Regions from separate parts of the Homo sapiens genome. Here regions 1 and 3 are each linked to region 2. Evidence: fine-mapped expression QTL. A gene starts in region 2. Each other region holds a variant in brackets. All regions are shown on one strand. Distances are from middle to middle.

Region 1 (8,180 bases), 590 kb after region 2:
GGAATTACCAGCTGTGGCCTCCCAAAGTGCTGGGATTGCAGGTGTGAGCCACCACATCTGACCTTTTTATTTTTATTTTTTGTAGAGATGGCGTCTCAGTGTGTTGCCTAGGTTGGTCTGAAACTCTTGGCCTCAAATGATCCTCCTGCCCCAGCCTCCCAAAGTGTTGGGATTATAAGCGGGAGCCACCACACCTGGCCAACTATCTTTTTATTTACTTATTTGCCATCTGCATATCTTCTTTGTTGAAGTGTCTGTTCAGATCTGTTCCCTATTTTTAAATTGGGTTGTTTGTTTTCCTATTGTTGAGTTTTAGTTCTTTGTATACCAGCTTTCTTTTTTCTTTTTCTTTCTTTCTTTTTTTTTTTTTCAGACAAAGTCTTGCTCTGTTGCCCAGGCTGGAGTGCAATGGCGCAATCTCAGCTCACTGCCACCTCCGCCTCCCAGGTTCAAGTGATTCTCTTGCTTCAGACTCCCGAGTAGCTGGGATTACAGGCGCCCACCACCATGACTGGCTAATTTTTGTATTTTTAGTAGAGACAGCATTTTGCCACGTTGGCCAGGCTGGTCTCAAACTCCTGACCTCAGGTGATCCGCCCACCTCGGCCTCTCAAAATGCTGGGATTACAGATGTGAGCCACCACACCTGGCCTGGATACCAGCTTTTTGTCTGAAAGGTGTTTTGAAAAGATTTTCTCACAATCTATAGCTTCTCTTTTTGTTCTCTTAAACATCTGATTTTCCTATCACTCCTCCCCATGCAAAATATACATTTTTTAACTGGATCTTGCCAGGGATTTCAGAGTGAGAACAAGAGTCAGACCTGGCCAATCTGAGTGCTTCATGACCTTGGTTATGATGTGCAGTAGTTTGGATGTATGTCCCATCCAATTTTTTTTTTTTTTTTTTTTGAGACAGAGTTTTGCTTTGTCACCCAGGCTGGAGTGCAGTTGCACAATCTTGGCTCAGTGCAACCTCCACCTCCTGGGTTCAAGTGACCCTTCTGCCTCCGCCTCCTGAGTAGCTGGGATTACAGGCACATGCCACGCCCGGCTAATTTTTGTATTTTTAGGAGAGACGGGGTTTTCCCGTGTTGGCCAGGCTGCCTTCTAAATTTCGTTGTTGAAATTTGATCCCCAATGTTGGAGATGGGGTCCTAATGAGAGGTGTTTGGGTCACAGGGGTGGACCCCTCACAAATAGATTAATGCCCTCCCTGGGAGTGTGGGTGAGTGAGTTCTTCCTCCATTAGTTCCCATTAGAGTTGGTTGTTAAAGAGAGGCTGACACTTGCCTCTCTTGCTTCCTCTATTGTCACGTGATCCCTGCTTTCTTTCTCCTTCCACCAAGAGTAGAAGCAGCTCAAGACTTTCTCTGTATGCCCAATCTTCCAGCCAGAAGAATCATAAGCCAAATACACCTTTTTCTCTTTATAAATTACCCAGCCTCGTGGATCACTTTAGGTCAGGCGTTCGAGACCAGCCTGGCTAACACGGTGAAACCCTGTCTCTACTAAAAATACAAAAAATTAGCCAGGTGTGGTGGCGGGCACCTGTCATACCAGCTACACTGGAGGCAGGAGAATCACTTGTACCTGGGAGGCGGACATTGTAGTGAGCCAAGATTGCACCACTGCACTCTAGCCTGGGTGACAGAGCAAGATCCTGTCTCAAAAAAAAAAAATAAATAAATAAAAATAAAAATTACCCAGCGTCAGGTTTTCCTTTATAGCAAGACAACATGGACTAAGACACATGGTTACTATAGAAATGGACATGTGACCCAAGTTGGACCAATGAGAGCTAACCTTGAGACTTTGGTATCACCATTCAGGAAAGCAGTACCTCTTTTCTGCTAGGTTGTTAAAATGATAGTATGGAAACTTTGAGCTGCTGTGGGCCCTGTTTGTCACCGTGAGGGAAGAGATTCTGCCTGAGAGGAAAGTCAAGATACAGAAAAGTAAAGCCCAGATGGGAAATGAGCTGTATTGCTAAAGATTCATTTTAGTGCCTGGATCCAGTTATGCCTGAAGCTAGTTATACAGCTCGGTTCTATAAGTCAACAAATTCCCTTTGTTAAAAACAAAAAAAAGCCAGAGTACTTTCCAGAGAGCAAGGCTTATTATAATAATAATTAAAGCAGCATACTCTTGCGAGGAAAAACAAATAGGCCAAAAGAACAAGACGGAAAAATCAGGAAAAGTTCACACATATATGGTAACTTGGTTTATGACAAAAGCAACATTTCAGTGCAGTGAGAAGCAAAAGATGATCTTTTTGAATCAATAGGGCTGAGCCAGTTGATAGCCATATGACCTCTACCTCACACCATACACAAAAATTGATTCCAGATGTGTTGTAGATCTAAATGTTAAAGCTTAAACAATAAAACTTCTAGAAGAAAATATCATAGAGTATCTTCAGAACCTTCAGGGTAAGAAAATATTTCTTTTATTTACTTGTTTGTGTTAATAGAGATAGGGTCTCGCTATGTTGCCCAGGCTGGTCTCGAACTCCTAGGCTCATGTGATCCTCCCTCCTCAGCCTCCCAAAGTGCTGAGATTACAGGCATGAGCCAGTGTGCCTGGCCAGAAAATATTTCTTAAACCAGAAACAAAGGAGCCTTAACTATAAAGGAAAATGTTGATAAATTGGACTATATTAAAATAGAAACTGATCCTTATCAAAAAATACCACTAAGAGAATGAAAAGAGAAGCCAGAGAGTGGGAGAAGAATATGTATTCTAACAAAAGACTCATAAGAAAAATAAAGAAAGAACTACTAACCTGTTTTTTAAAAAAGGCAGAAAAACCAGTCAAAAAGTGGACAAATGGCGTGAATTGACATTTCACAAAGTAGCATATTCATATGGCCAATTAATATTTGAAATGGTGTTAAATTTCTTTCTATTTTTTTTTTTTTTTGAGACTGAGTCTCGCTCTGTCTCCCAGGCTGGAGTGCAGTGGCGTGATCTTGGCTCACTGCAAGCTCCGCCTTCCGGGTTCACGCCATTCTCCTGCCTCAGCCTCCTGAGTAGCTGGGACTACAGGCACCCGCCACCGCGCCCAGCTAATTTTTTGTATTTTTAGTAGAGACGGGGTTTCACCGTGGTCTCGATCTCCTGACCTCGTGATCCACCCGCCTCGGCCTCCCAAAGTGCTGGGATTACAGGCATGAGCCACTGCGCCTGGCCCGAAACGGTGTTAAATTTCTTTAGGCATTGGGCTAAAGGTAAATTAAAACCATAATAAAACACGGCTACAGCCCCACCAGAATTGCTAAAATTGAAAGGACTAACAATACCAAATGTTGGCGAGCAACTGAAATTCTCAGAGACTGCTAGTGGGTGTATAAATGGAGAAAATTAGTTTGAAAACCTGGTTGGCAGTGTCTATGAAGGATGAACATGAAGCTGGGAATGGTGACTCACGCCTGTAATTCCAACACTTCGGGAGGCGGCAGATCACCTGAGGTCAAGACCAGCCTGGCCACTCCCATCTCAAAAAAAAAAAAAAGATGAACATGC[A/C]CACACCATGTATACACCCTGGGACCCAGCAATTACACTTCTAGGTATATACCCAACAGAAATACAGAAATGCCTACATATGTTCACCAAAATTCAATGTATATAGCAGTACTATAAGTGATCATGCCAAATCAGAAGGCACCTAAATGTCAATCAACAGTAGAATGGATACATAGATTATTATGTATTCCCATAACACACTTTTTTTTTTTTGAGACAAGATTGTCCTCTGTCACCCAGGCTGTAGTGCAGTGGTGTGATCTCAGCTCACTGCAATTTCTGCCTCCCAAGCTCAAGCCATCCTCCCACCTCAGCTTCCCAAGTAGCTGAGATGACAGGCACGCACCACCACACCCCACTAATTTTTGTATTTTTTTTGTAGAGACGGGGTCTTGCTATGTTGCTCAGGCTGGTCTTGAACTCCTGTGCTCAAGCTATCTGCTTGCCTCACCCTCCTAAAGTGCTAGGATTATAGGCATGAGCCACCATGCCTGGCTCATAACACACTCTTATACAGCAATGACAATGAACAACCTCCAACAATCAGCAACTACATGGACAAATCTCATAGACGTATGATGAATAAAACAATTCAGGCCAGGTGCAATGGCTCACGCCTGTAATTCCAACACTCTGGGAGGCCGAGATGGGCAGATCACAAGGTCAAGAAATAGAAACCATCCTGGCCAACATGGTGAAACCCTGTCTCTACTAAAAATACAAAAAATTAGCCGGGTGTGGTAGTGCGCACCTGTAATCCCAGCTACTCAGGAGGCTGAGGCAGGAGAATCGTTTGAACCTGGGAGGCGAAGGTTGCAGTGAGCTGAGATCATGCCACTGCACTCCAGCCTGGTGACAGAGCGACTCTCCGTCTCAAAAAAAAAAAAAAAAAAAAAAGAGAGAATTCCAACACACAAGTCTCTATGCTTGTAGGATTCCAAGCAGATTAAGATAAAAAACAAGGCAAACTAACTTATGGTGTCAGAAATCAGGGTAGTAGTTACTTTTGAGGTAAAGAAGTGACTGACAAGGGGCCGGGCGCGGTGGCTTACGCTTGTAATCCCAGCACTTTGGGAGGCCGAGGTGGGCAGATCATGAGGTCAGGAGATCGAGACCATCCTGGCTAACACGGTGAAACCCCGTCTCTACTAAAAATACAAAAAAATTAGCCATGCATAGTGGCAGGCGCCTGTAGTCCCGGCTACTCGGGAGGCCGAGGCAGGAGAATGGCGTGAACCCAGGAGGCGGAGCTTGCAGTGAGCCGAGATAGCGCCACTGCACTCCAGGCGAGACTCTGTCTCAAAAAAAAAAAAAACACAAAAAAGTGACTGACAAGGAGCATGAGGGGTTTGGAGAGCTGGTAATGTTCTAGTTCCTGACCCAGGGCTGGTTACCCATGGTTACATGGTGTGCTCAGTCTGTTATCTGATCCATACTTACTGGGTATTTGTGAGTTTCTTTGTGAGTATGTTGTACTTCAATAATTGTTTTTTTGAAACTGGGTCTCTGTCATCCAGACTGGACTGCAGTGGCTCAACCATGGCTCACTGCAGCCTTGACCTCCTGGGCTCAAGCGATCCTCCCACCTGAGTAGCTGGGACTACAGGTGCACACCATGGCACTTGGCTATTTATATATATATATATATTTAAAGAGATGGAGTCTTGCTATGTTGCCAAGGCTGGGTCTCGAACTCCTGGGCTCTAGTGATCCTCCCATCTTAGCCTCTCAAAGTGCTGGGATTACAGGCATGAGCCACCGAGCTTGGCAATAATTTTTTAAAAGGCCAGTTTTTTGTCTCTTGAAAGTGGAGGAGTCTTGGCAAGTCCAGCAAATGGCATATACTATTTTGTTTCTCTTCCCTCCCCTTTCAAGTGAGAATTGTGATTGTTTTCTTGTTTTTCCTCCACTGTTATACACAGGGGTGGGTTGCTGAGGGGGCTACAATTTCATTTAACATTAATTTTTTTTTTAGATGGAGTCTTGCTCTGTCACCAGGCTGGAGTGCAGTGGCACAATCTCCGCTGACTGCAACCTCCGCCTCCCAGGTTCAAGTGATTCTTCTGCCTCGGCCTCCCGAGTAGCTGGGATTATAGGTGTGTGCCACCATGCCGGGCTAATTTTTGTACTTTTAGTAGAGACAGGGTTTCACCATGCTGGCCAGGCTGGTCTTGAACTCCTGACCTCAGGTGATCCACTTGCCTTGGCCTCCCAAAGTGCTGGGATTACAGGTGTGAGCTACCGTGCCCAGCCTTAACATTAATTTTCAGGATCAAGAGAGACTCCATGTGCCCTTGATGAAAGGAATAGCCAATATCCAGAAATCTTGGTCTGAGGATTGGATGTGGCTTTGGGATCCCTCCCTTTGCAGAAGGGGTGAAAGCTTCTGCAGTTGCACTAGAGATAGTTATGTTAGGTGGGAGTATTAGTTTTAGCCAACTTTATCAAAATATAATTTGTGTACAAGAAAATGTATCAATATTTCAAAAAGATATTTGCAACACACTTTCATAGCAGCATTATTTACAATACCCAAAAGGTGAAGGAGGCAACCCAGCTGTTCATCAACAAATAAATGGTTCGACAAAATGTGGTATATACACATAATGGATTTTTTTTTTTGAGATGGAGTCTCGCTCTGTCGCCCAGGCTAGAGTGCAGGGGTGCGATCTTGGCTCACTGCAACCTCCGCCTCCCAGGTTTAAGTGATTCCCCTGCCTCAGCCTCCCGAGTAGCTGGGACTATAGGCGCCTGCCACCACGCCCGGCTAATTTTTTGTAGTTTAGTAGAGATGGGGTTTCACCATGTTGACCAGGATGGTCTCGATCTCCTGACCTCGTGATCCGCCTGCCTCTTCCTCCCAAAGTGCTGGGATTACAGGTGTGAGTCACTGTGCCTGGCCCATAATGGAAAATTATTTAACCTTAAAAAGGAAGGAAATGCTAACACATGCTACAACATGGGTGAAGCCTGAGGACATTCATGCTAAGTGAAACAATCCCATCACAAAAAGACAGATGCTGTATGATTCCACTTACATGAGGTACCTAGAGTAGTCAAATTCATAGGGAATTTCCCAGAGAGTAGAACGTGCTTCCCAGGGGCTGGGAAGGGAAGGCAGTGGGAGTTGCTTGATGGGAACAGTTTCAATTCTACAAGAGGAAAGAGTGGAGATGAGTAGGGGTGATGATTGCACAACAATGCAACTGTACACTTAAAATTGGCTAAGTCCTGGGGAGGTGGCTCATGCCTGTAATCTCAGCTACTCTGGAAGCTGAGGCAGGAGAATCGCTTGAACCGGGGAAGTGGAGGTTGCAGTGAGCCAAGATCATGCCATTGCACTCCAGCCTGGGCATTGCAGCGAGACTCCGTCTCAAAAAAAAAAAATTGGCTAAGATGATAAAGTTTGTGTTATGTGTATTTTGCAACAATGTACAAGAATTTAAATGAACCAATTTTAAGCGCAATGAATTTTGACAAATGTATTCGGTTGTGTGATCACTTCCATCATCCGGAAAGTTTCCCTGTGTCCACTAGTAATCAGTCTCTCCATAACCACTGCCACTGCCCCCAGTCAACCACTAATCCATTTTCTGCCCCTGCGTATTAGCCTTTTCTTTTCTCTTTTCTTCTCTTCTCTTCTTTTCTTTTCTTTTACTCTGTCACCCAGGCTGGAGTTCAGTGGTGTGATCTCAGCTCACTACAACCTCCGCCTCCCAGGTTCAAGCCATTCTCCTGCCTCAGCCTCCAAAGTAGCTGGGATTACAGGCACTCGCTACCACACCCGGTTAATTTTTGTATTTTTAGTAGAGATGGGGTTTTACCATGTTGGCCAGGCTGGTCTTGAACTCCTGACCTCGTGATCCACCTGCCTTGGCCTCCCAAAGTGCTGGGATTACAGGGTGAGCCACTGTGCCTGGCCTCTGGCGTCTTTCTTTCTTTCTCTTTCTTTTCTTTTCTTTTCTTTTTTCTTTCTTTCTCTCTCTCTCCTTCCTTCCTTCCTTCCTTCCTTCCTTCCTTCCTTCCTTCCTTCCTTCCTTCCTTCCTTCTCTCTCTCTCTTTCTTTCTCTCTTTTTTGAGTTGGAGTCTCACTCTGTTGCCCAGGCTGGAGTGCAGTGGCATGATCGGCTCACTGCAACCTCCGCCTCCCGATTCTCCTACCTCAGCCTCCCAAGTAGCTGGGATTACAGGTGCCAGGCTGCTTTTGAACTTCTGATCTCAAGTAATCCGCCTGCCTCAGCCTCCCAAAGTGCTAGGATTACAGGCGTGAGCCACCATGCCCTGCCCATATTAGTGTTTTCTTTCTACAGTTTCACAAAAGTGGAATCCTACAGCATATACCCTTGTATCTGGCTGTATCACACGGCATCATGTTTTTGAGATGCAGGGCAGCAGTGCCATCACAGCTCACTGCAGCCTCAAACTCCTGGGCTCAAGTGATCCTCCTGCCTCAGCCACCAGAGTAGCTGGGACTACAGGTGAGCACCATCATGCCTGGATAATTTTATTATTATTATTATTATTATTATTATTATTATTATACCTGGATAATTTTATTATTATTATTATTATTATTATTATTATTATTATTATTATTACTACTACTACTACTACTATTATTTGTAGAGACAGGGTCTTGCTATGCTGCCCAGGCTG
Region 2 (8,180 bases):
AGAGGTTGCAATGAGCCAAGATTGCACCGCTGCACTCCAGCCTGGGCAACAGAGCAAGACTCAGTCTCATAAATAAACAAATAAATAAATAAAATGTAAGTCAGACCCTGTCCCTCCTCTACTCAAAACCGTATGGTGGATTTCATTTTAGACAGAATAAATGCTGAAATTCCTACCATGGCCCAGGAGCCCCCTGTATGATCTGCCACTTCCCTGTTCCCTCTCTGACCTCTCCCACCTCTCCCCTTGCTCACGCTGAGTCAGCCACAACAGCTTCGGTGCTTTTCCCCAATCGTGACAAGAACGTTTCTTCCCCAAGACCTTTGCACCTGCTCTCCCATCTGCCTGGAACGCTGTCCCCCTAAGAGTGCACACAGTTAACTTCCTCATCACATTCTTTAGCTCTCTGTTCAAATGTCACCTTCTCAGAGACCTTCTTGGACACGATTTTACTGTGTTTTTTCTTTTCTTTTTTTTGAGATGGAGTTTGGCTCTTTTCGCCCAGGCTGGAGTGCAATGGCACGATCTCGGCTTACTGCAAACTCTGCCTCCCGAGTTCAAGTGATTCTCCTGCCTCAGCCTCCCATGTAGTTGGGATTACAGATGCGTGTCACCACGCCTGGCTAATTTTATATTTTTAGTAGAGATGGGGTTTCACCATGTTGGCCAGGCTGGTCTTAAACTCCTGACCTCAGGTGATCCCCCTCAGCCTCCCAAAGTCCTGGGATTACAGGCTCGAGCCACCGTGCCTGGCCCTGGACACCATTTTACTAATAGCATGTTTTATCCTCCTTACCTTGCTTTATTTTTCTTCACAGTGCTTGTCACTACCTGACATACTCTGACTTACTAGAATGTAAGCTTCATGATGGCGGGGACTTTTCCCTGCCTTGTTTGCCACAGTGTGCCCAGAGCCTCAAACAGGCCTGGCACAGAGCAAATGCTGGGTCTACGTCTGCTGAGTGAATAAATCATTGTCTCCTTTGCAAAAGAAAATGTGCCAAGAAGGTGGGTGGGGGGGGTCCCCAGCTGTGTCAGTACACATTCATCTCTCAGGCAAATCTAGACATCCAGCCAGAGACTCAAAGCTCAGGGCCGGAATTATCTAGCTGGATGGTCCCTAAAAAAGACGTGCCACTTAGAAGCAGATCAGTACAGGGGTTAAGAGGATAAACTTGGGAAATAATCTGCCTGGGTTTGGATCTTGCTTCTGCCATGTATTGCATGATGGACAGAGTTTTGCTATGTCACCCAGGTTGGAGAGCAGTGGCACGACCTCAGCTCACTTGCAACCTCCGCTTCCTGGGTTCAAGCGATTCTCCCTGCCTCAACCTCCCGAGTAGCTGGGATTACAGGCGCATGCCACCATGCCCGGCTAATTTTTTTATTTTTAGTAGAGATGGGGTTTCACCATGTTGGCCAGGCTGGTCTCGAACTCCTGAACCCAGGTGATCCGCCCACCTCGGTCTCCTAAAGTGCTGGGACTACAGGCGGGAGCCACCGTGCCCAGCCAAATTTTTTGGATTTTAGAACCTATTACATATTACAACACCGGCGAGATCCAGGGGCAACTCTCCATAAGTATATGATTTGCACAACAAAATCTTTAAAAATTCTAAATAGTCACACATCAGTTCAGAGTGGGTATTGCCAGCAAACAAGTTCAAAGCCAGGTGAGGTTGGCCTGCCAAGTAAGTTGCAAAACAGAGAAAAAGACCTTTCAGTTTTCAGAACGTTTTGGATTTTAAAGTTATAGATAAGGGACTGCAGACCTGTAAATATTCTTTAACATTTCTTTTTTAGTGTCTGGCATCCCCAACCACCCTGAGAATGTGAATTAGCTGGGCAGGATTTTTGTTTTAGACACTGCTATAATAACCTGGGCTTGAACAGTGCCTATTAGACTAGCACCGTTCAAACCCAGGTTATAGTAGTGTAATATCGGTTGCACGGAGCCTTCCATATAGTAAACGCTCAATAAAATTGGATGTGCTGAAGTCACCTATGCAATGGCCAGGTCAGGACTTGAAACCCTAAGACTCCAACCCTCAGGCCAGTCTTTATCTTAATTTATTTGACTTATTCAACAAATGTTTAGGGAACAGCTGCTATGCGTCAACTACTGTATAGTGTTCCTCCTAGAAAGTTCAGGAAACAGCACAGCAAAAAGGCTAAAAGTCAGACCCCACCTCAGCGCAGGTGGGGCGATTGCCTAGGCGACGACAGAGCCTCCCTTCGGCCGCACCTCCATAGAAACCACGGGATGACTTAGACGCCAAGTTTCACAGCGGAGGAGCTGTCGAACTTCCCACAAGTTCCGCCCATCTCCGCCTTAGCCATGCCCAACACGGAGCCCAAGGTGGCTTGGGAAGCTCAAGAGGAGGCCAGTGAACCCCGCGACCCGGAGCCGCTCTCATTCCGAACCCCGACAGCAGGGGCCTCCGCCTCCCACAAACGGTCGTGCTGACGTCACGGACGCCCCGGCCGAGCTGCGGCTAGGGGGTCGGGGGACGTCCCCTCGTTCGCCTCGCTTCCCCTCACCTCTGTACTTGGGGACTGGGGTGGGATTCTGGGCTTCTGCAGCCTGACCCTCGGATCCTCCGCAGTTACCCGGACTCACCTTCTCAGTTGCCCAGCGAAAACTTCCGCTGGGCGGAGAGCGCTGCGCGCGCATCCTGAATCTGAGGCGCCCGCGCAGGCGCCGCTGACTTCCTGACGGCCCCTGGGCTTCGCCTGCCTGGGAACTCCGTTTCCCAGATGCCTCCGCGGCAGGCCCGCCCTCTGATTCCAGACGGAATGGGGATTATTCCCTCATTGCTCATCCCCCTCCCCTCCGTTCTAGCCGCTTTGGAACGCCTTCTGGTTCTACTGCGCATGTGTCAGTGTCAGACCAATCGGAATGCACCGTGAGGTACCTCTCCACCAATCAGAGGTCACATTACCTAAACTTCTGCCTCAACTCCGCCCCTTACTTCCGCTTGTTTTCTCAGAAACCCGTCACAACGCGTTTCCATGGCAACCTACCGCTTGCTCTTCGGAAAAGGTTAACACTCCCTGACTTCTAGTAAAGGCAAGAAGCTAATTAGATGATTCTTTAACAAGGTAAAAATCTGGACTACAAACTGATGCCGCCTGGTCCTGATTCTCTTTCTACTCTACTCCCACAGTGCTAAGGCTGAAGAAGCAGGAGGAGATGGGAAGGCGAAAGAAGTCGCCCGCACAGCCCTCTGGGAAATAGAGTCCTGGCGCTGCCGCGGAGGATCCTGGGTGCAGCCGCTCAGAGAAGCTTCTCGCGCACAGGAAGTCGCTGCGAGGAGGCGCGTGTGCGGGGAGTTGAATCTCCCGCTCCCTTGAGGCTGGGGTTGCGTCTGTTGACGCGGCCGACTACAATCCCGAGGTACGGAGACGCTGGGGCTGAGGGACTTGCGGGCTCGGTCCTTCCTGAGAGGTGACGGAATGCAAGTGGGGGCGACTTCGGCAAAGGGTGCGTCGCCTTGGGCGGCGGTTGTCAGGGTGAAGGTGTGAACCGTCTTTCACAGTCTGTTATGAAAACCGCTCAAGGTCTGGGCACGGTAGATCACGCCTGTAATCCCAGCACTTTGGGAAGCCTTGGCGGGGGGGATCACTTACAGCCAGGAGTTCCTCGAACCCCCAGTCTCTACTAAAAATACAAAAATTAGTTGAGCGTGGTGGCGGGGGCCTGTAATCCCAGCTACTCAGGAGGCTGAGGCAGGAGAATCGCTTGAACCCAGGAGCTGGAGGTTGCAGTGAGCCGAGATCGCGCCATTGCACTCCAGCCTGGGTGACAGAGCGAGACTACATCTTAAAAAAAAAAAAAAAAAAAGAAAGGAAGAAAACCACCTTGGGAGGCTGAGGTGGGCGGATCGCTTGAGCCCAGGATTTCGAGGCTAGCCTGGGCCAGATGGTGAAGCCCTGTCTCCACAAAAGAAGAAAAAAATAGAAAAATTAGCCGGGCGTGGTGGTGCGCCCCTGTATTCCTAGCTAATTGGGAGGCCGAGGTGGGAGGATTGCTTGAACCCAGGAGGCAGAGGTTGCAGTGAGCTGAGAAAGAAAAGAAAAGAAAAGAAAACTGCTAAAGGGGTTTCCAGGCCTCCCTGATGGCCCTGAGAGGAGTGGTTCTGTTTTATTTTGGTTTTGGTTGGGGAAGGAGGGGAATGAGTTACCTGAAGTTGGCAAATTTAGGCAGAATCTTGCTGGACGATGGATGGGAGTTCTTCGGGAAGTTGAAGTACTTAACATTTACAGTATTTGAGTGCTTTCTGTGTGCCAGGCGCCCTGCTGGAGTTGCATTTCCTCTTCTGATCCCCGCAGCAGCACTGAGACATAAGTGCAGGTCCCCTTGGCACCAAGGCAATCTCGGGAATCAGAATTTTTCAGATTTTAGAAAGCTAATAGGGTGCATATTTTATAATTAGGCAGCACCCCCCCACACCCCGAGGAATCTGGGCCAGTTTTTGGTCATAAAATGTTTCTGTGGGGCAAGGTGTGAATATTCACACTTATGAGAACATTAAGACCCTACATGGCCTGTGGCAATCCAGGTGAAGTTTTGCGGTCAGTTTATAAATCAAGTTCTGGTTTTTGGAGCATTTAAAGGACCATAGATCTGTTGTATTTGTTCCATTTGGTACATGTGGAAACTAAGGCTTAGAGAAGGTAAATGGTCTGGAAGGAAGGGCAAGACTCTTGGGCCCAAGGTCTCTCAGCCTGATAATTGTTTGGCTTAAGTCACTCTGGGCTGGATGACCTTGGGCTCCACCTCTGGGCCCTCGTTTCTTTCCTCCCAGAGCTGAGAGTATATGAGATGTGGGCAGAATGTGATTTGGTAACTGCAGACAGGGATCTCAAGCTCAGCTGTCTGTGAGGGCCAGGCAGATGACATACAGGAAAGAAGAGAACTGGTCCAGGTGAGGCTGCGGGGCCTTGGGGAGCACTTGCCTCATCTGAAGGGGAGAATTGTGTTTTTTTTTTGATGACAGAGTCTCGCTCTGTCACCCAGGCTGGAGTTCGGTCTCACTGGAACCTCCACCTCCCCGGTTGAAGCGATTCTCCTGCCTCAGCCTCCCAAGCAGCTGGAATTACAGGCGTGCACCACCATGCCTGGCTAATTTCTGTATTTTTGGTAGATACGGGGGTTTCACCATGTTGATCAGGCTGGTCTTGGACTCCAAACTTCAGGTGATCCGCCTGCCTTGGCCTCCCAAAGTGCTGGGATGGCAGGCATGAGCCACTGCACCCAGCCGCTTTTTAAACTTAAATTTAATTTTTTTGGCCGGGTGTGGTGGCTCATGCCTGTAATCCCAGCACTTTGGAAGGCCGAGGTGGGTGGATCACGAGGTCAGGAGATCGAGACCATCCTGGCTAACACGGTGAAACTCCGTCTCTACTAAAAATACAAAAAATTCTCCGGGCGTGGTGGCAGGCGCTTGTAGTCCCAGCTACTCAGGAGGCTGAGGCAGGAGAATGGCATGAGCCCGGGAGGCAGAGCTTGCAGCGAGCTGAGATCGCGCCACTGCACTCCAGCCTGGGCGACAGAACGAGACTCCGTCTCAAAAAAAAAAAAAAAAACAAATTTAATTTTTTTTTGGAGGCAGGATCTTTCTCTGTCATTCAGGCTGGAGTACAGTGACACAATCATAGCTCACTGCAGCCTTGAACTCCTGGGCTCAAGTGATCCTCCTACCTCAGCCTCCCAAGCGATCCTCCTACCTCAGTCTCCCAAGTAGTTGGGACTACAGGCACGTGCCACCACAACTTGCTCATTTTTAATTTTTTTTTTTTAGAAACAAGGTCTTGTTACGTTGCCCAGGCTGGTCTCGAACACCTTTCAGCCTCCCAAAGTGCTGGGATTATAAGCATCCCCCACTTGCCTAGCACTGGTGGGGGAGCTTTAAATGGGCACCAGTGAACTAACTTCGTGGGATGTAGACCCAATGTTGCCAAATCCTAGGATGTTTCAGAAGTTGGAAACATAATTTTTAGGTGAAATTTCCCAATTTTCAAGTTTGAGACTAGTGAGCCATGCTTGAATTTTCTTTCAAAACATTCTGTCTGCCAACAAACATTATGGGCCAAATATCTGTCAACTGAGTTATACTCGTAGGTTGAGGCTTAACCTCTGACATGTAGAAAAACTCATTGTTCAGTAGAATTAGCATTTATTGTAGGTCTACCATATTCCCATATTTGTAGTCTCAAAAATCTGGACAACTCAGAACAACAAATTTTTTTTCATAAATTTAGTGTCCGTGCCTTACCTGAACTACTACAGGGTATTTTTTAAATATAACTTTAAATTATTCTACCTAGAATGAACGATGATACTTTTCTCTAGGGTAAAGTGTTCAATTATGAAATGCAGCCTGATCCACACTGCGCTGGGACTTTGTTTTGTTTTGTTTTTGTTTTTGTTTTTGAGACGGAGTCTCGCTCTGTCGCCCAGGCTGGAGTGCATGGCGCCATCTCGGCTCACTGCAAGCTCCACCTCCCGGGTTCACACCATTCTCTCGCCTCAGCCTCCTGAGTAACTGGGACTACAGGCGCCCACCACCATGCCTGGCTAATTTTGTTATTGTATTTTTAGTAGAGACGGGGTTTCACCGCGTTAGCCAGGATGGTCTGGATCTCCTGACCTCGTGATCCGCCTGCCTTGGCCTCCCAAAGTGCTGGGATTACAGGCATGAGCCACTGCGGCCAGCCCTGCACTGGGATTTTAATGAAATATGCCATGTATATGCCATATCACCTTTTGAAAATAAAAGTTGAATTTCAAAGCACATCTGGCCTTGGAGTTTGAAGAATTTGTGGACCTGTGTCATTGTTAAGTGATCCGTGCTGCTTTGTGATATGAAATGCTTTCAGCACTCCGCAGATATGTGCTACTTGGTCCACGCAGTGGATACAAATGGGTAAAAATGTCTGTGGTACAGTTTTGCGTATTATGGGTCATGAAAATAACTAGGTGGGCAGTGACTATGATTTTTTAATGAAGTAGAATAAAAGAGACTAGAATAGAAAACATCCCAGTGCATCTTACATTGCAGGGTAAGTATTGCTTCATGAAGCTTTTGTTTAGTTACACTGTGTGTTTGAGTAGTCATGATACTTTTTTTTTTTCTTTTTTGAGATGGAGTCTCACTGTGTTGCCCAGGCTGGAGTGCGGTGGCACCATCTCGGTTCACTGCAGCCTCTGCCTCCCGGGTTCAAGTGATTCTTTGCCTCAGCCTTCCGAGTAGCTGGGATCACAGGCACGTCCCACCAAGCCCAGCTAATTTTTGTATTCTTAGTACAGACGGGGTTTCAGCATATTGGCCAGGCTGGTCTTGAACTCCTGACCTCAAGTAATCTGCCCACCTCGGCCTCCCAAAGTACTGAGATTACAGGCGTGAGCTACTGTGCCTGGCCTATTCTACATATTGGTGGTGTTACTGTGGGTCACGGTTAAAACAAAAGTTGAAATATTTCTGTTGTAGAGATAGTGGCCAGGTGCGGTGGCTCACAACTGTAATCCCAGCACTTTGGGTGGCCCACGAGGGCGGCTTACTTGAGGTCAGGAGTTTGAGAACAACTTGGGCAACAAGTGAGATCCTGTCCCTACAAAAAGTGAAAAAGATTAGCTGGATGTGGTGGCACATGCTTGTAGTCCCAGCTGCTTGAGAGGCTGAGGTTGGAGGATTGCTTAAGCCCAGGAAATTACAGCTGCAGTGGCCCATGATTGTGCCACTGTAGTACTCCAGCCTGGCAACAGAGCAAGACCGTGTCTCCAAAAAAGAGTAACAGTTTCGGAGGCCAATTTACCTGAACTCAAATTCCAGAGATGATAATCAGAAATCCCAGAAGCATTGTTCCATTGGTTCTTTAGACACCTTCGTTCTGTCAACAACTGTAGGTACTTTTACACCTACTGTTAAAGCACCTACTGCGTACTAGGCACCATGCTGGTGCTAAGACACAGCAGTGAGCAAGACAGAAGCTCCCACTGTGGCCATAGACTTTCATCACCAAATCTCCTAAACATGTGCTGACTGACTGTTAGGTGCTAACCCACCATTGTTGGTGGCGAAGCTGTTCTGTAGGTTCTGAAGCACAGTGCAAATGTGGGGCTGAGGTGGCTTCAGTAAATATAGTTGTTGTTGTCCCCTGCAGGGAGACTCACATTG
Region 3 (8,180 bases), 840 kb before region 2:
CCGAGGTACCCCTCCGGGGGCGCCTGGGACCCTCACCCAGGCCAGGGCTTCGGGGAGAGCGTAAGGACCGGGCAAAGCTGGGGGGCCCCCCCGCGCGGGAAGGACCTGGGGGCGGGATTACATCAGGGATGGGGCGTGGCCAAACCAGAGGCAGGGCTGGTGGTGGCCAGTGTTGGGGAGGGGCTGGTCCTCACCACCCCTCCTTTTGCTGGCAGATGTATCTGCTCTCGGACAAGGCCACCTCGCCGCTCTCGCTGGATGCTGGCCTCGGGCAGGCCCCCTGGAGCGACCTGCTTCTTTGGGCACTGTTGCTGAACAGGGCACAGATGGCCATGTACTTCTGGGAGATGGTGAGTGCTGACTTGGCGCTCCTGCATCCCTGTCCTTTAGGCCACTGGATGCCAGTGTTCCCGAAACAATTACCATACAATTCCCCGACCCCTGACGTCACCTGACAGGCGCCCCATCCTCCGTCGCTGATATATGCCTCCAACTGCTTCCTCTTTCTTTTCTCTCTCTCACATCATGCATTATTTTATGTGTTTATTTTTTGAGACAGAGTCTCGCTCTGTCGCCCAGGCTGCAGTGCAGTGGCGCAATCTTGGCTTACTGCACCCTCAGTCTCCCGGGTTCAAGTAATTCTCCTGCCTCAGCCTCCGGAGTAGCTGGGATTACAGGCACCTGCCCCCACGCCTGGCTAATTTTTGTTTTGTTTTGTTTTGTTTTAGTAGAGATGGGGTTTCACCATGTTGGCCAGGCTGGACTCCTGACCTCAAGTGATCCACCCGCCTCGGCTTCCCAAAATGCTGGGATTACAGGCATGTGCCACCGTGCCTGGCCAAGATTCTCTCTTTGTTTTGGCCTTTGATAATATATCTCAGTGTGGATCTCTGTGAATTTCTTTTTCTTTTTCTTTTTTTTTTTTTTTTGAGATGGAGTCCTGCTCTGTTGCCCAGGCTGGAGTGCAGTGGCATGATCTCGGCTCACTGCAAGCTCCACCTTCTGGGTTCATGCCATTCTCCTGCCTCAGCCTCCCGAGTAGCTGGGACTACAGGCGCCCGCCACCACGCCCAGCTAATTTTTTGTATTTTTAGTAGAGATGGGGTTTCACCGTGGTCTTGATCTCCTGACCTTGTGATCTGTCTGCCTTGGCCTCCCGAAGTGCTGGGATTACAGGCGTGAGCCACTGTGCTTGGCCTGTGAATTTCTTTTACTTGGAGTTCCTTGAGCTTCCTGGATGTGTAGACTTTTGTCTTTCATCACATTTTGGAAGTTTTTAGGACATTATATCTTCAAATATTATTTCTTTCCCTTTCTGTCTCTCTTTTCCTTTTGGACTCTCATTATGTATGTATTAATATTCTGTATGGTGTCTCGCAAGTCCCTTAGGCTCTGCTTATTTTCCTTCATTTGTTTTTCTTTTTTCTCCTCAGGCTGGATAATCTCAATGTACTTAGCTTCAAATTCACTGATCTTTATTTTGCCTTTTTTATGAATCTACTGTTGAGTCCCTCTAGTGGTTTTTATATTTCAGTTATTGTGCTTTTTAGCTTCAGAGTTTCTATTTGGTTCATTTCTGTCTCTGTAGTCTTTTTTTTTTTTTTTTTTTTTTTTTTGAGACAGAGTCTCGCTCAGTCGCCCAGGCTGGAGTGCAGTGGCTCAATCTCCGCTCACTGCAAGCTCTGCCTCCTGGGTTCACGCCATTCTCCTGCCTCCACGCCATTCTCCTGCCTCAGCCTCCCAAGTAGCTGGGACTACAGGTGCCCGCCACCACGCCCAGCTAATTTTTTTGTATTTTTTTAGAGACAGGGTTTCACTGTGTTAGCCAGGATGGTTGCGATCTCCTGACCTCGTGATCTGCCCTCCTCGGCCTCCCAAAGTGCTGGGATTACAGGCGTGAGCCACTGCGCCCGGCCTCTGTAGTCTGTCTTTTTTTTTTCCTGGTCCCACTACAAAACTTTATTTTTGATTACAGTACCATTCTCAATCTCTTCTACAAAAAGCAGAAAAAAAAGCAGCCACTTCACTCAAGACCTATATACAGATAAGATGTTTTCTGTGTTTTTTTCTTTTTTTTTTAATTTTTATTTTTAAAAAAATAAATTCAGTGTTCACATTTCTATAAAGAATTAACCCAGTTTCAGGAAACCCTGCCTCTATCTCTGTATTCTTATTCTCTAGGTGGTGAGACATCTTTTTCCTGGCTCCCTTTAGTTCTTTTTTCATGATTTCCTTTAGCTCTTCGAGCATATTTAAGACAATTTATTTAAAGCCTTTGCTAGTAAGTTCAGTGTCTGAGTTTCCTCAGGGATAGTTTCTATTCATTTATTTTTTTCCTACTCATTTCTATTCATTTCATTTCTTTTCTTTTATTTATTTATTTGTTGTTCTTGTTGTTGTTGTTGAGACAGAGTCTCATTCTGTCACTCAGACTGGACTGCAGTGGTTTGACCAAAGTTCACTGCAACCTTGACTTCTTGGACTCAAGCAATCCTCCCACCTCAGCCTCCTGAGTAGTTGGGTCTACCAGCCACATGCCAAGCTAATTTTAAAAAATTTGCAGAGATGGGGTCTTACTATGTTGCCCAGGTTGGTCTTGAATTCTTGGGCTCAAGCAATCCTCCTGCCTGGGCCTCCCAAAGTGCTGGGATTACAGGTGTGAGCCACCATGCCTGGTCTCTATTAATTTCTTTTTTTTCCAGTATATGAACCATATTGTCTTGTTTCTTTGCATGCCTCATAATTTTTGGTTGAAAAGTGGAACATTTTGAATATGATAATGTGGCAACTCTGGAAATCAGCTTATGCCCTCCCTCCAGGGTTTGTTGTGGCTGCTGCTCATTGTGGGTCATTGTTGTTTGTTTAGTGACTTTTCTTTTTTCTTTTTCTTTTTTTTGGGGGGAGGGGGGATGGAGTCTCACTCTGTGGCCCAGGCTAGAGTACAGTGGTGCAATCTCGGCTCACTGCAAGCTCCACCTCCCAGGTTTAAGTGATTCTCCTGCCTCAGCCTCCCAAGTAGCTGGGATTACAGGTGTGTGCCACCACACCCAGCTAATTTTTGTATTTTTCATAGAGACGGGGTTTCACCATGTTAGCCAGGCTGGTCTCAAACTCCTGACCTCAGGTGATCCACCCACCTTGGCCTCCCAAAGTGTTAGGATTACAGGCGTGAGCCACCGCGCCCACCCTGTTTAGTGACTTCTCTAAACCTTTTTTGGAAAGTCTGTATTCTTTGCATGTGTGGCCATGGAAGCCCCTCTTCTGTTAGCTTAGTGGTCTGCTGGTGACTTGACAGAGATATCCTTAAATGCCTAGAACCACAGAAGCAAATATAACAAGAAACTCCCTATAAGTGCTGGGATTAGAGGCATGAGCGACGCCCACCGTGGCTGTATATTGAAGCAGTCTTTCAATACTTAGCCAAGCTGTTTACAGTTCTGCTTTAGTCTTCACTTCCTGCTTGTGCAGAGCCTAAAGTTCAGCCAGATGTAAGAGCTTCAGGTTTTCTCTGGTATTTTCTGAGCACGCCTCTAGCCCTAGTCATGCATCTAGCCGTCTGGATTTCCTGGTACACAAGGAAGACTTTCAAAGCCCTTATTCCCTCCAAGTATTTCCTTTCATGGCCTCTTTCTTCCCAAGATGCTTAGTGTATCTATTACTGCCTCTACTGTGAGTCCTTGCCTCAGATGGATGTGGTTAATTCATTTGCCTTTAAAAGATTTTAACAGGCCGGGTGCAGTGGCTCACACCTGTAATCCCAGCACTTTGGGAGGCCGAGGCAGGTGGATCGCCTGAGGTCAGGAGTTCGAGACCAGCCTGACCAACATGGAGAAACCCTATCTCTACTAAAAGCACAAAAAATTAGCCTGGCATGGTGGCGCATATCTGTAATTCCAGCTACTCGGGAGGCTGAGGCAGGAGAATTGCTTGAACCTCGGAGGCAGAGGTTGTGGTGGGCTGAGATTGCAGCATTGCACTCCAGCCTGGGCAACAAGAGTGAAACTCCGTCTCAAAAAAAAAAAAAAAGATTTTAACACACACTGCCTGGAAAGCCACTTTTTCTCTGGGGAAAGCTCTAAGGCAGGTGAAGCAAAGTCAAGTCCTTGAGCTGTTGCTTCAGGGAGCCACCAGATAGGGCCACACACACAACCACAATTCTGGAGGGTAAGTCTGAATTGCTCCCTCTAGTACTAGCGACCCACACCAGGAATGTGTGTCTTTGTCTTCAAGGTTGCCACTGAACTGGGGAGCTGGGGGTAGTAAGTGGGTAGGTTAAAATGTCACAGTACCCTCTTACTGAAATTTAGTGGTCTCTTCATTAAGCATTTTCTTGTTTTTTTTTTTTTATAAGTTTTCGATTAGATTCCAGAATTCTAGAAAAGTTGATTCTGACA[A/G]CTTTTGATAGCTATTGATTGCTTTTGTGGAGGGATAAAGTTTTGAAGTTCCCTACACTGGCATTTTTGGTCACCTCTCCAAGGGCTTTTAAAAATTTCATTGTTAGAGACAGGGTCTTCCTCAGTCATCCAGGCTGGAGTGCAGTGGCATGATCATGGCTCACTGCAGCCTCAACCTACTGGGCTCATTCGATCCTCCTACCTCAGCTTCCCTAGTAGCTGGGACTACAGAAGCAGACCACCACGCCTGGCTAACTAAAAAAAAAAAAATTTTGTAGAGATGGAGTCTCACCATGTTGCCTGGCTGGTCTTGAATTCCTGGGCTCAAGCAATCCTCCTCATTTGTAACCACCCAATGGGTTCACGTTGCCCGCTGCCTAGACAGAGCCGATTTATCAAAACAAGGAAAGTGTAATGGAGAAAGAGTAATTCGCGCAGAGCCGGCTGTGCGGGAGACCTCAGTTTTATTATCACTCAAATCAGTCTCCTCGAGGATTCAGGGATCAGAGCTTTTAAAGATAATTTGGTGGGTAGAGGCTTGGGAAGTGGGGAGTGCTGATTGGTCAGGTTGGAGATGGAATCACAGGGGTTGGAAGTGAGGTTTTTCTTGCTGTTTTCTGTTCCTGGGTGGGATGGCAGAACTGGTTGAGCCAGACTACAGTCTGGGTGGTGTCAGCTGATCCATCCAGTGCAGGGTCTGCAAACTATCTCAAGCACTCATCTTAGGTGTTACAGTAATGATGTTATCCCCAGGAGCAATTGGGGGAGCCAGAGGCTGCGTGACCCCTAAACTTAATTTCTAATCTTGTAGCTAATTTGTTAGTCCTGCAAAGGTAGACTGGTCCCCAGGCAAGATGGGGGTCTTTGGGGAAAGGGCTATTATCAATTTCGTTTCAGAGTCAAACCATGAACAGAATTCCTTCCCAAAGTTAGTTCAGCCTATGCCCAGGAATGAGCGAGGACAGCTTAAGGGTTAGAAGCAAGATGGAGTCGGTTAGGTCTGATTTCTTTCATTGTCATAATTTTCTCAGTTATCATTTTTGCAAAGGTGGTTTCACTTCAGCCTCCCAACGTGCTGGGATTATAGTCGTGAGCCACTTTACCCAGCCTCCAACTGCTTCTTGACCTGTCTGTGACTGCTGAATTGATTCTAACTGCAGCCCAGCCCCTGACTTGCATCCCTGGTCTCTGAACCACCTGACTTCTGGCATTTTCAACTGACTTTCAGTTTCTTCCAGATCCATCTCCAAACATTACTTCATCCTTGGCCTCTGATGACCCCAGTTAGTTTCTGACCTCTGACTCTGTTCCTTCCCTTGACTTCAGGCTTCCTCCCCCTCTATGAACCCTCTTTGACGCATCCGTGCCCTCTTTGTCTCTCCAGGGTTCCAATGCAGTTTCCTCAGCTCTTGGGGCCTGTTTGCTGCTCCGGGTGATGGCACGCCTGGAGCCTGACGCTGAGGAGGCAGCACGGAGGAAAGACCTGGCGTTCAAGTTTGAGGGGATGGGCGTTGGTGCGTGGGGCACGGTGCCTGGGAGCAGGGACGGGGGCTGCCGCCAGAGGGGGATGTGCAACTCCGCACTCCTCACATATCCCTGCGCCATCCCCTTAAATTCCCTTACCTCTCCCTTCACACCCTCACCCTACTCCTTCCCATCCCTGTCACATAACTAACTCCTCTGCCCCAGACCTCTTTGGCGAGTGCTATCGCAGCAGTGAGGTGAGGGCTGCCCGCCTCCTCCTCCGTCGCTGCCCGCTCTGGGGGGATGCCACTTGCCTCCAGCTGGCCATGCAAGCTGACGCCCGTGCCTTCTTTGCCCAGGATGGGGTACAGGTGAGTATCTGCGACACCAACATCCCAAACAGTCTCCAAGTGGACTCTGGGAAGTATGGGGATGAGCCCCTGCCATTGGGAACATCTATGGTCTTGACCAGCCACTCTCCCTGGAGATCCCCCAGAAAGTCTCTCTTCTCTCTCAGAAAGGCTGCTCTTCCCATAAGAAGCCCCGCTCCCTTCCACCAAAAGCCAACCTTCCCACGGCAAAGCCCATCTTCCTAAAAAGTTCCACTCCAGATAGAGAAACTCCTTGTGACCCTGTCAGGAAATTCCACCTTTAACCTTGGAAGTCCTTCCCGCTTTCAGGGAAGAGTCCATTTCTTTCAAAGGAAGTCCTAGCTCATCCACAGGAAGTCCTACGGCATCCACAGGAAGTCCTTTCCACTTCCTTTAGAGGTCCCTAGTTTCAGTTTTCAGCAGTTAGAATGGCCTCACTGAACAATTACCTTTTTTTTTTTTTGGACATAAACAAACTTTGGTCTAGGAAATCTCACCCTTCCTATAGGAAATCATCTGCCTTGGGAAGCCCTACTTGCTCCCACAGTCTCTCCGATCCTGACAAGTTGACATTTTGGAAACATTATCAATATTTTTAGTTTAAATCTGACAGGGGCTCAGAGTCCCACTTTAGTACAGGAAGTTGTGCCCAACAGGAAGTCCCATCCTCATCTGTTGGAATGGTTTGGCTGACATTTCAAACAGCTACCCAGAGTCCCTTGCTGTGGATAGTGGTTAAACTCATGGATTCCAGCTCTACCACATACAAACTGTGTTTCTTTGGGCCGTTTCCTTAACCTCTCTGTGCCTCATGTGTACCAAGGAGGAGATACTAGTACCCACCCCCTTATGTGTCAAGGGTTCGGTGGACTAATCTACATAAAGTGCTTAGCCCTGTATCTGCCATATGGTGTCAATTTAAGTGTTGACTGTTTACTGCCAAAACCTGGCCTAAGTTGTCTTTGCCTTTCACCACCGTTTCCCTACCTCAATAGTTGTGGCTGTGACATTGGGCACTTGCTCTGTACTCTGGAGCTGCAGTCCAACCCTTGCTGGGCGTCTTAGGGACGGGGCTGTGGGGGAGATTTGGATCCTAATCCTTCCCACCCCCCACAGTCTCTGCTGACACAGAAGTGGTGGGGAGATATGGCCAGCACTACACCCATCTGGGCCCTGGTTCTCGCCTTCTTTTGCCCTCCACTCATCTACACCCGCCTCATCACCTTCAGGTCAGTACCCTGGGGTGAGAGTGGTGGGGATGGGGGCGGGGTGCTCAGTTTCTCCTTCCTGCCCCCTCTGCCCACCTTTCTTCCCTCATCGGCCCATTGTGTCCCTTCCCTAGGAATGGGACTCTCTGTCCCTCCACTAAGGGAGTGCTGTGGGAGGTGAGTTTTGGGGGGGATCCTCCCTGTGGTATCTCTAGTGGCAGTTACTCTGCCTTTCTGGCCATGGCTCTGGGGGAAGGTCCCTTTGGGATGACTTTAGGAGACCACCTCTCTGTCCCTCTGCCATGTCTCCGGGTGAAGAAGTTTGAGTTTTGCTGGAGAATGCCTCTCCACCTTCTCTTCCCCTCATTTCTTGCTCTGTGCTTCCCCCCTTGCTAGGAAATCAGAAGAGGAGCCCACACGGGAGGAGCTAGAGTTTGACATGGATAGTGTCATTAATGGGGAAGGGCCTGTCGGGTGAGTGGAGCCTCCAGCACTGTGTGAGGTGGGGACACCCTGGGCAGTTCAGGACATGTGCCAGTTCCACGTTGTGTTAGTCCCCTCTTGAGTTGCTACAAAGTTGCTAAACCTGAGACTGAGTAATTTATAAAGAAAAGAGGTTTCATTGGCTCATGGTTCTGCAGGTTGTACAGGAAGCATAGTGCTGGCATCTGCGGCTGGTGAGCCCTCAGGAAGCTTCCACTCATGGCAGAAAGTGAGGGAGGAGCCAGTGTATCACATGGCGA

What was found.
Region 1: its variant is fine-mapped to the expression of ZNF473 in prefrontal cortex (GTEx, PIP above 0.99).
Region 3: its variant is fine-mapped to the expression of ZNF473 in sigmoid colon (GTEx, PIP above 0.99).

Annotation. Positions count from the first base shown.
Region 1 is chr19:50,611,873-50,620,052 of GRCh38, forward strand. No RefSeq gene overlaps it. Among named protein-coding and RNA genes, the nearest start is that of SNAR-F, 11 kb to the left of the region's middle. The variant A/C (reference allele first, on the strand shown) is at 3,525.
Region 2 is chr19:50,022,726-50,030,905 of GRCh38, forward strand. It overlaps ZNF473 (zinc finger protein 473), which reads left to right and starts at 3,280. Exons shown (of 5, transcript NM_015428.4): 1 at 3,280-3,397; 2 at 8,167-8,180. It overlaps VRK3 (VRK serine/threonine kinase 3), which reads right to left and starts at 2,647. Exons shown (of 15, transcript NM_016440.4): 1 at 2,542-2,647. RefSeq lists enhancers at 1,953-2,454, 2,504-2,583, 2,924-2,973, 3,384-3,433.
Region 3 is chr19:49,182,863-49,191,042 of GRCh38, forward strand. TRPM4 (transient receptor potential cation channel subfamily M member 4) reads left to right here. Exons shown (of 25, transcript NM_017636.4): 11 at 1-60; 12 at 216-350; 13 at 5,779-5,908; 14 at 6,084-6,229; 15 at 7,346-7,458; 16 at 7,834-7,911. Among named protein-coding and RNA genes, the nearest start is that of TRPM4, 29 kb to the left of the region's middle. RefSeq lists enhancers at 5,526-6,027, 6,028-6,527. The variant A/G (reference allele first, on the strand shown) is at 4,395.